Linked DNA regions of Homo sapiens: region 1 is linked to region 2. The links come from fine-mapping of genetic effects on gene expression. A gene starts in region 2. The other region holds a variant in brackets. All regions are shown on one strand. Distances are between the middles of the regions.

Region 1 (4,386 bases), 42 kb before region 2:
ACTGAGCCCAAAAGAACATTTCCTAAGGCTAAAAGTGACATCATTCACATAAGCTATCTTAGGTACCTCAATAAGCCCTGGATGGCCATTTCTAGGATGGGAAGTGAGATTATGGGGTACCCTGAGGCAAGAGGGCTTTTCCTCGATCTCTATTTAAATTTTCTACAGAATACATTCATGCATCATTTATTTCATTTAAAATAAATTTTTAAAGATAAAGGAAAATAGAAATGTCTTGTTCACAGATGAGTTCATGGTTTGGAGACAGAGCTGGACTACATTCTTGACAAAGATTTGTTCAAGTTCTAGAACTCATAGACATTAGAGAGGAGGACCATGTTGAACAGAGCTCGTGTTCCGGTGTGGTGGGGGCTGTGATGGGAGACGCATGCCCCATATGTGTCTATCATTCAAGCCTTGTTTGTAAAAACCCTCCTTTCTGCTTCAGCGTTTGTCTTTTTCAGCTCCCAGTGAAGGAGGCCTGACAATAGTGTGGTGAGGTGGTCAGGGAACTAACCCATTTTACAGATGAGGGAGTGGATGAGCTTGCACCCTGGCCTCCCCTACTGTGTCCTGCTCCCACTGAGCCCTGCCATCCCTTCCATGTAGCTAGCTGGATTCAACAAACTCAGTTTGAAAAAGGGCTTTCCGAAGTCCCTATCCACTTGAGTTAGATCTACTGCAGAATACTGCCTCTTGAGCACTGAAAGATATCCATATTCTTTCACAGAAATATATACATCTTTTTGAAAATGTTTGGTTGGGTTTGTGGTCGGAGGCTTGGCATGGTTGTTTGTTTGTTAGAATGTGCCTCCTTTGGGAAGAATGCAAACCAGGGGCTGTATTGGGATGCTGAGTCAGGCTCTGCCCTCAGTGACAAGGGGTCTTTGTCTTGTTCATGGTTCTCCCCACACACCTGCATACACACAGATACCCACAAAAGTGCATTTTGAAAACTAATAAAAATTGCACTGAAAATATTTAACTTATGCAAATACTACTATAGCAGAAAGTACACACATATACAAAACAGCAGCTATCTTTTCTAGAATCTGAACAAAATTTTCTGTTGATTATATATACAGAATTTGCTGAACATTTGCCTTGGGAAACCAATAAACAATGCAGTTATTGGTCCACTGTCAGCTTAGGCTTCTGTTTTGAGATGTTTTACCTATAGTGGAAATTGTCATCTGTACCTGGCATGTTTCTGGGTGTGTCTAAAATGAGCATGTCTCAAGAAATCTTTCCAGGTTCCTACATTCTCAACCAAAGTTGCTCAAGTGAGAAAGCAACTCAGGATATCAAGCTACCAGTTAGAATTTCAAGTATGACAAGCCTGCTACAAGAGTGTATCTTATCTGTGGCCTCTAGGGTTTCAGAAGCCAGAGGGCTCATGCTACCGCCAAAAGCTGTGGCTTACCAACTCGTATCACCCCTTTCATTGGAAGTTTCTTAAGATTCCAAAATGTGAGAATTATTATCAGGTGTTCTTTGTCTAATGATGTCTGATTGCTCTGCATATATGAATGAATGCCTACAGCTCTTCGGAAAGGAAAGCAAAGAATAATGTTCTTATGCTGGGCGGGGGTGGAGGGTGGGGACTTAGGGGGTGGTTGAATGTTCAGCTCTAGTAGCTTGCATTTCCTGTTTAGTGGGTGTGAGGGGTTTACACAAGAAAGTCTCAGTGTTACGCTAGATGGATAGCCTCATCGATCATGTCTAAGGAATCTCTGCCTAAAGATGATCAATTTGGCCTCTGCATACCACAAGGAGGTTTCAGTATTTAAGAACTTCGGGATCAACCATGTCCTAATTCTAGATACGTGTTTCGATTGTCTTGTCCTATTTGTTCAAAATTCCCTTCAAAGTTAAACAATTTATCAGGCCAGCTCATAGGACCCTTGAAGGAAAATTTGAAAAACATCTTATTATTCTAAATACTATTTTCTGTTTGCAGGAATGATATGAATTTGCAAAGAGACTTGGCATCTAAAGGTGGGGGGAGGCTCAGGAAGCCCTAGGAAGTTCATAAGAACTTTACAACTTAGTTTCCAAGTTCAGACTTCTGGTTCACTCAGCTACCTAGGCCATCATGGGTCACACAGCTGTGATAAAGTTACCTTTCCTATCTTATCTAGACATCTGATAATGTGGATAATGTGAGGATTATTTCTCCATCATCAAATTGATCTCTAAAGGAATTATACCAAACATACAGTCACAAAGTTCTCCCAAATTGGTGATCAGCTCTCTGAAAATTAAAATCAAATGGTATCTTAGGAAGTATGCTATTTTCTTAGATGTATCCAAACCTTAGAAATAAAAAGCCCACCTTAAATCCATCAATACAAATAAGCGATAACCATGATTACTTCTATGTTATTATACAGGACTTTAAATATACACTGAGGTGCCAGAACAAAGTCCTAGGCTGGTTGAATTCTTGTGTCCAGCTCCATCTCTGCCTCTGTCTCTTTTTAATGGAAC[A/T]GGCAGATGATGCATTTTCTAGACTTATTTCCCCTCATTTTGTTGTTATCAGTAATAATAATGACAAGGAAAATTGTAGATTATTTTATAGTTTAAGACATTGATCTTAATAGGAGCCTTCCCACATCTATAATCTTATTTAATTACTCTAATAAACTGGAGAAGAAGGCAGGATTATTCCCCTCCCCCACTTTGCTGATGAAGAAACAAAGGTTCTGAAGGACTACGTTCGTGGTCATAAAGCGGGAAGGGGAAGAGTGTGAGGCCAACCCTCTGGACTCCCTTCCGTGGGGCCCTTTCCACGAGGCTGCACTTTCTCAGCTGCATTCTTTGCCCACAAACACTACAGCAATTAGTACATTTATTTTTCCATATTGATACTATTTTTCTTTCCCTTTTGATCTTGCCCCTTTGGTTAGATGGTAGGCGATTTTAGGGCAAGATCTTTATCTGTTCGTTATTTACCGTTTGAACTTTCAGTGGGCTCATTAGGGGTCCAGGGACATTTGCTGATTGATGGCATGCACTGGACATGAGCCTGCTGGCTTTGACATTTTAAAACTGCACACTTCCCTCAGTGACAGTATGCCCAAGCAACAGGCCTCCCTGACATTTTCTCAAAACCAGGAAATGAAACTGGCCACCAAGAGCAAGTGACCGCCAGCCAGGGCATTGGTGCAAACCAAGCAAAACACACCACAGTGCAGGCAGCGCGGGTCACAAGGATGAAGGCATTCGATCTGCAGTTATCTTTGAAGAAATGTAACATGTTCCTTCCTCCCACCGTGGTTTCAGCCACAATCATCCTCCTGTTTTAAACAGGTTGAATTATGTTCCTATACAATATTTGTACACAAAACCCAACCTTAGACATGCTTTTCCCTATGATCTTGGTCTCTGCACACGCACGAGAATAGCCTTCTTCCATCTGAGTACTCAGCTCGATCCTGCTTAGCTTCCAAGATCAGATGAGGCACGTTCAGAGCACTGTGGACGTGGACAGCGCAGCCTCCTCCAAACGTTTTGGCTGAATTGGAGGACAAAGCAGGGCTGTTTAATATGCAAAACATCTTTTTCTCGCATTTTCCTTTCTATAGCTTCCCCTGTTTAACCACCCCTCTCCACCTCGCTTTTAACCAAGTCAAATCTTTGGCAAATGGTTTTGGGGATATTTTTCAGCACGTGGTAGCAAAGATATTTTCTGTCTGTGGCCTCGGAGCCCCTGGGCGCTCTGGGGAAGCTGCCATTGCACAGGTAGCAGTACTCTGAACCCCTGCAGCTCAGCAGCAAGCCCCGGTCATAATCATGTGCTCTGTCGCTCCTCTCCTCACTGTGCTGATTGCAGCCCAGATAGGAGGAGCATGTGGGAGCTGACTCCTCACTGAACAATGACTTGAGAGAGAGAAAGACAAGAACTTCTTTGCATATGAATGCATCAACATGTGCCTCTCTGGGTACCTTTGCTCCATGTGAAAGGAAGGGAGGCAGCCAAAGTGACCCTTGGCTAATTAGACAAAGGCAGATGGGCACAACAGAGAAAACTTCTGCTGGATCCAGTATTTGCACAGCTTCAGGGACTTTCAGCGCACAGCATCTTATATCACACATGCATAACATTCCTGCCAACTGAGTCCAAATGGCGAATGTGATCTTTGTAGCTTGACCTGTGACACCCAACAAATTCTAGGCAATGGTTGGATTTGCTGTCTGTGACTCACTTTGCATGTTTCCATTATTTTTATCTACTCTGGCCCACTAACTTGACCGTGTTCACTCAGCATCAGCCAGGTTCTAAAGAGTGAGGGGAAGCTGAGAAAGCTTGAATGGCGGAGTGTGTAGAGCTACTGAGATGCTTCCGGGACACCAGCAGGACACTAATCCTACTAGTTTTTCTCC
Region 2 (4,386 bases):
GGTTAGCACATCCTGGGTACACAGACCACAGCTTCCTCCTTTTGCTCAGGGCCTGTGCGTAGAGTTTAAGCAGTGTGGAGATATTTCTTCACTTTTCCTTAGGGTGTCCACATCAAGACCCTGAGGCCATCTTACCACCCTTCTGGATCAGAAGAGGCCTTCAGAGTAAGTGGTAACTGTCCTGATTGGGGCGAGGGAGTTTTCTAGAGGGGAGCATCTCATTACTAAACCCAGAAATACAGAGACACTTGCATGAACACATCAACAGGAAGCAGAGAAACAGGCATAAAATGGCCCAATGACCCCCACTCTCGGGTCTTTGCAGGAATCCCCTCTCACCTACTTCTCACCTACTCACTTTGGGTTTGAGGAACCCAGGCTCTTATAGGCTCTTATAGCTCCCTTTAACCCATCACAGTCAGTTATCTCATCTCCAGATTTGCAAGTTCCTTCGGTTGGTGTCTTTTACCTAAGTCAGCATATTTCAAACTTTCATAAAAAAAACTTAGAAAATAAAAACCACGACCCCACCCAGAAGATAAAAATCTCTTGAATTCTCTGAGCCCAACATCTTAGCCTTCTCTTGCTGAGCCCTGAGCAGGGAGTCGATTCTTTCGGGTTCTGGGGAATGGCGGGCTCTGCCAGTCCCCACCTCGCCAGCCTAATAGTTTTTCCAGACAGACTCCCGCTTGGTGTTGCGCGGCAGCCTCGAAGCTAACCCCTGGTCCCATTCATTCCCCTAGGTCCTCTAAGGCCCGTCACGTTAGGGGGTGTCCCTCCTCTCTGCTCCTGGCCCTACTTGGCGAACCCTTTCAGAGACAGCAGTCAACTTTTCTGAAGTGAGACGCGAACCCAAACCCTCACCTTTCCGCCTGGGTTGCACTTTGCAACCTAGACCCAGGCTTGGCGGCGGCGGCTGGGGTGGGAATGGCCGGGCGGGCGCGGGGCGCGGGCTCACAGCCGGCCCCTGCAACGGAGGCGGCTCCGAAGGACGCAGGACCCTTTCGGAGGCGACAGCTCCAGGAGCCCTGGTCCTGGAGCCGGCGCACGCCTAGGCGCGAAGGGCGGGGGCTCGGGGCGCTAGGGATCTGTGCGGACGGGGGCTGGGGAAGGTTCCCCGCCGGAGAGGCGGCGAGGCCGGCCCAGGAGTCCCGCGGAGCCGGCGGCTCTCCAGCGCCTAGAGCCGGGCGACTGAGTGCCGAGAGGAAGGGAAAGCGCTGACATGTAAACAGGGGCTTCCATCTGGAGGAGCCCGCTCAGATAGATCCCCCGACACACTCACTTGCACCCCTACCCTCGTGCAACGAGGCCACTTACCCACCCCAGGGCCCACCAGGCAGGGACCCGAGCCCGGGCGACTGCAGCCCCCGCCCCCGCCGTGTTCCGCCTCTGCGGAGAGGAAGCCCAGTGCCTAGCGCTGGGGCCACGGGAGCCCCGGGTGTCGGTGGGAGTGGTGGACCCCGAGGTCTCTCGCCCTTGACTCCGTTCCGTACCCTGGGGTCCCCCGGTTTCCCGCCGTCCCCTCCTGCAGCCCCGGCGGGCAGCGAGGTGGGAGGGGGGCCGGGGCTCCACTTTGGGGGCTGGGATTTCGGGGGAGGGTCGCCCTCAATGCGGGCGCCTGGCCGGCTGGCCCGCGAGTAGGACTCGCCACCCGAGCGCCGGAGGAGCCGGCGCGAAGCCGGGGCGCGGAGGGAAGGGAGAGAGGCCACGTCTTCCGGGACGCGGGCCCCGCACCTACCCGCCCGCCGCTTCGCCTCCCCGGCCGGTCCCCGCCGCCCGCGTCCGTTGCCCCGCCGCTTACCTTAATAGTCCCGTCCATTTGGCCAAGTCTGCAGCCGAGCCCCCCAATATTCCACACATTGACCCGGTTACAGCCTGACCTCGCAGCCCCTTCGGATTAGCCCGGCGCGGCCTCCCTGGCGCCCTGGGCCCTCCCTGCGTGCCCCCTGCGAGCGCCCTGCCCTCACTCCCCTGTGCACGTTTGTTGTTGTAGCGGAGCGAAAGAGACAGTTAACCGGATGAAACTTTTTTTTCAGCTAATTTTGGGAAGTGACTTCACTTTGCGAATCGGGGAGGAAGTCCTATCTCTCTCTCTCTCTCTCTCTCTCTCTCTCTCTCTCTCTCTCTCTCTCTCTCGCCTCGAGCTCTCCTCTCTCTTCTCTCCCCTCTGCTCTCCCTCGTCTTCCCTCCCCCCCCACACCCCCTCTTCCTCCCCTGCTGGTCCTGCTTTTCGCATCACACACTATATAAATATACGCGGAGATGCCCAGACACATTCATGCGCTGCGCACACAGGATACTTGCTCCTGGGAGATAAGAGCTAGCCGGGAACAATGACGGGGTCCACGCCCAGCGTCCGCGCCCTGATTCCCGAAGTCTGAACCTCCCCCCATCACCTTCCCCCAAAATCCAAAGCCAAAGACCTTTGGCTTCTTTGCTTTTCCTGAGGCGGTTGGCCGAAGGTGGCCCTCCTGACTCATTCACTTTCCGTTTCTTCCCACAGATACGTTCATTAATGCTTTTTCCAGCCGGAGACAAACTTTTTGGGGGTGGGGTAGGGGGGGTATGGAGGGAGAGTTGGCTAGGGCTGCGGGTAACCCAGCGCCTACTGCCGGGGAAGACTCGGACGAAAACCGAGGCAAACCAACCATTAAAAAGTGCATCCAATAAGAATTTTTCCACTCAGGCCCTCCGCTGCCGAGACGCGGCAGACTCCCAGAGCGGCTCACCCACTCATCGAAGCGGATTCTGGGCGGTTTCGGGCTGACCCGCGCTGTCAGGGCGCGGACTCCATTCCGGGCGCATTGTTAGGAGAAGGGGCCCCTCGGGGCGGCGCGCCTCGACCCTGGGCTCCCGGTGCCCGCAGAGGGCGGAGATCCGCGGCGCCCTAGGCCACCTATCCGCATCTTCTCGAGCCAAACCCCCAGCGCTTACCCGGACCCGACGGCCCAAGCACTGACTCCCAGGCAAGAGTCGCCCTTCCTGGTCCCCAGGGAACTGACACTACCGCGGGACGTTCCCTCTAGGACAGTCAGCAGGTCCCAGGAGCGCAGCACGCAACAGCGCAGAGCAGACCCAGACTTTTCCCGGGGTGAGACCCGGAGGCCCGCGCTCTGGACCGTCCTCCCTACCCAGCCTGGAGGCCGGCGTTCCCCGGCCCAACCCGGAGACCTCCCCGCCTCCCTCCTGGGCCGCCGCGCGCCCCAGTTGGAGCAGCCTCGAGGGGCTGGGCCCTTTCGGCCGGACTCCCTTCTCCCGGACATCCAAAACAGGTTACCTTGTCCACGCTCTCCGGACCACGCTTTGGACTTGCTCACTTTTATTTAAGAGTCCGACGGGGGAAAGAGGGAAAAAAAATCCAGAGGAGATCCAAGTCAATTGGAAGAAAAAATTTCAAAAGGGTGTCCACAGAGGCGAAAAAAGGTGACTTATTAATTCTTTATTTCTTCAGGAGCAATTGAGCCCGAGAGCTCACTCGTCTCCCTCCCTCCCCCTCCCTCTCTAGAAATTAGTCTCATCAATTCGGCTCCAATTTTGGGTTCGAATACAGACACGGGTCTGAACGTGACCAGACCTGGAGTGGCGGGTGCAGCCTGCCAGCAATTGAGACTTGGTGTGCGTGTTGGGGGTGGGGGTGGGGTGGATGGTGGGATGGGGGCCGGGCTGACTCCCCCCGCTCCTGTCTGCTTCTCAATCCAGGGGTCTGCTCCGGGGCTCCCCTGGGACCGCCACATCTGGTTACCGCTAGCGGGGTCAGTCCCCCCCTTTGCCTGGGGCCACCAGTTCTGGAGTTCAATTAAAAGAAATCAGGCTTAACCCTTTCCTCCCCGCGGCAGGCTGCCTGCCCTCTCACTCCTCCCTTCAGCGTTTCCACGTGCTTTCCAGAGAGGAAAGAGGTTAACGGGAAAGGAAGAATGAATTACATCCTTTCAAACCCCAAATTGTTTCCTTTTCAGCCCAGGCTCTACCGACCTTCAAACTACAACAGAGCTTTCAGGAGAATGCGGAGAGACGGCTTCCCACCCGGACCTCACCAGAAACCCGCACACCCCAGCCACATTGCTCCTCATTCAGCCAGAAAGGACTCCAACTCCACCACCAGGAGGCCCCCCTTCCTGGTGCTGGCCAGTTGCAGAGGCTGTTCATGGCATCCCACAGGTGGCGACTGCCCCCCACCCTCCTCCTAGCACTTTAGAGGGTCCCTCTGTGGCAGACACCATGGCTAGGTTTCTCTTTCCAACTCCTGTTGGTCTGGCAAGTGACAGATCATCTTCACTACATTAATCAGTAGTCACCCGAACATTCCTATACTGTCCCCCAATTCCTTTCAGCACCAGCTGCCTCCCCCACTGGAATTATTCAATATGGAACTAGATTAAATTGAAG

The links. PIP is the estimated chance that this variant, and not a neighbour inherited with it, causes the effect.
Region 1: its variant is the best candidate, but not a certain one, in a credible set for the expression of FLI1 in whole blood (INTERVAL, PIP 0.72).

What each region holds. Positions count from the first base shown.
Region 1 is chr11:128,733,379-128,737,764 of GRCh38, reverse strand. All of the region lies in intron 1 of FLI1 (Fli-1 proto-oncogene, ETS transcription factor), which reads right to left. Among named protein-coding and RNA genes, the nearest start is that of SENCR, 40 kb to the right of the region's middle. RefSeq lists enhancers at 3,171-3,716, 3,470-3,759. The variant A/T (reference allele first, on the strand shown) is at 2,491.
Region 2 is chr11:128,691,692-128,696,077 of GRCh38, reverse strand. FLI1 (Fli-1 proto-oncogene, ETS transcription factor) reads right to left here and starts at 2,006. Exons shown (of 9, transcript NM_002017.5): 1 at 1,802-2,006. The coding sequence starts at 1,819. It overlaps SENCR (smooth muscle and endothelial cell enriched migration/differentiation-associated lncRNA), which reads left to right and starts at 55. Exons shown (of 3, transcript NR_038908.1): 1 at 55-165; 2 at 2,687-3,423; 3 at 3,957-4,386. RefSeq lists silencers at 975-1,104, 1,155-1,374, 1,415-1,464, 1,685-2,054, 2,738-2,877 and 1 more and a cis regulatory region at 1,786-2,518.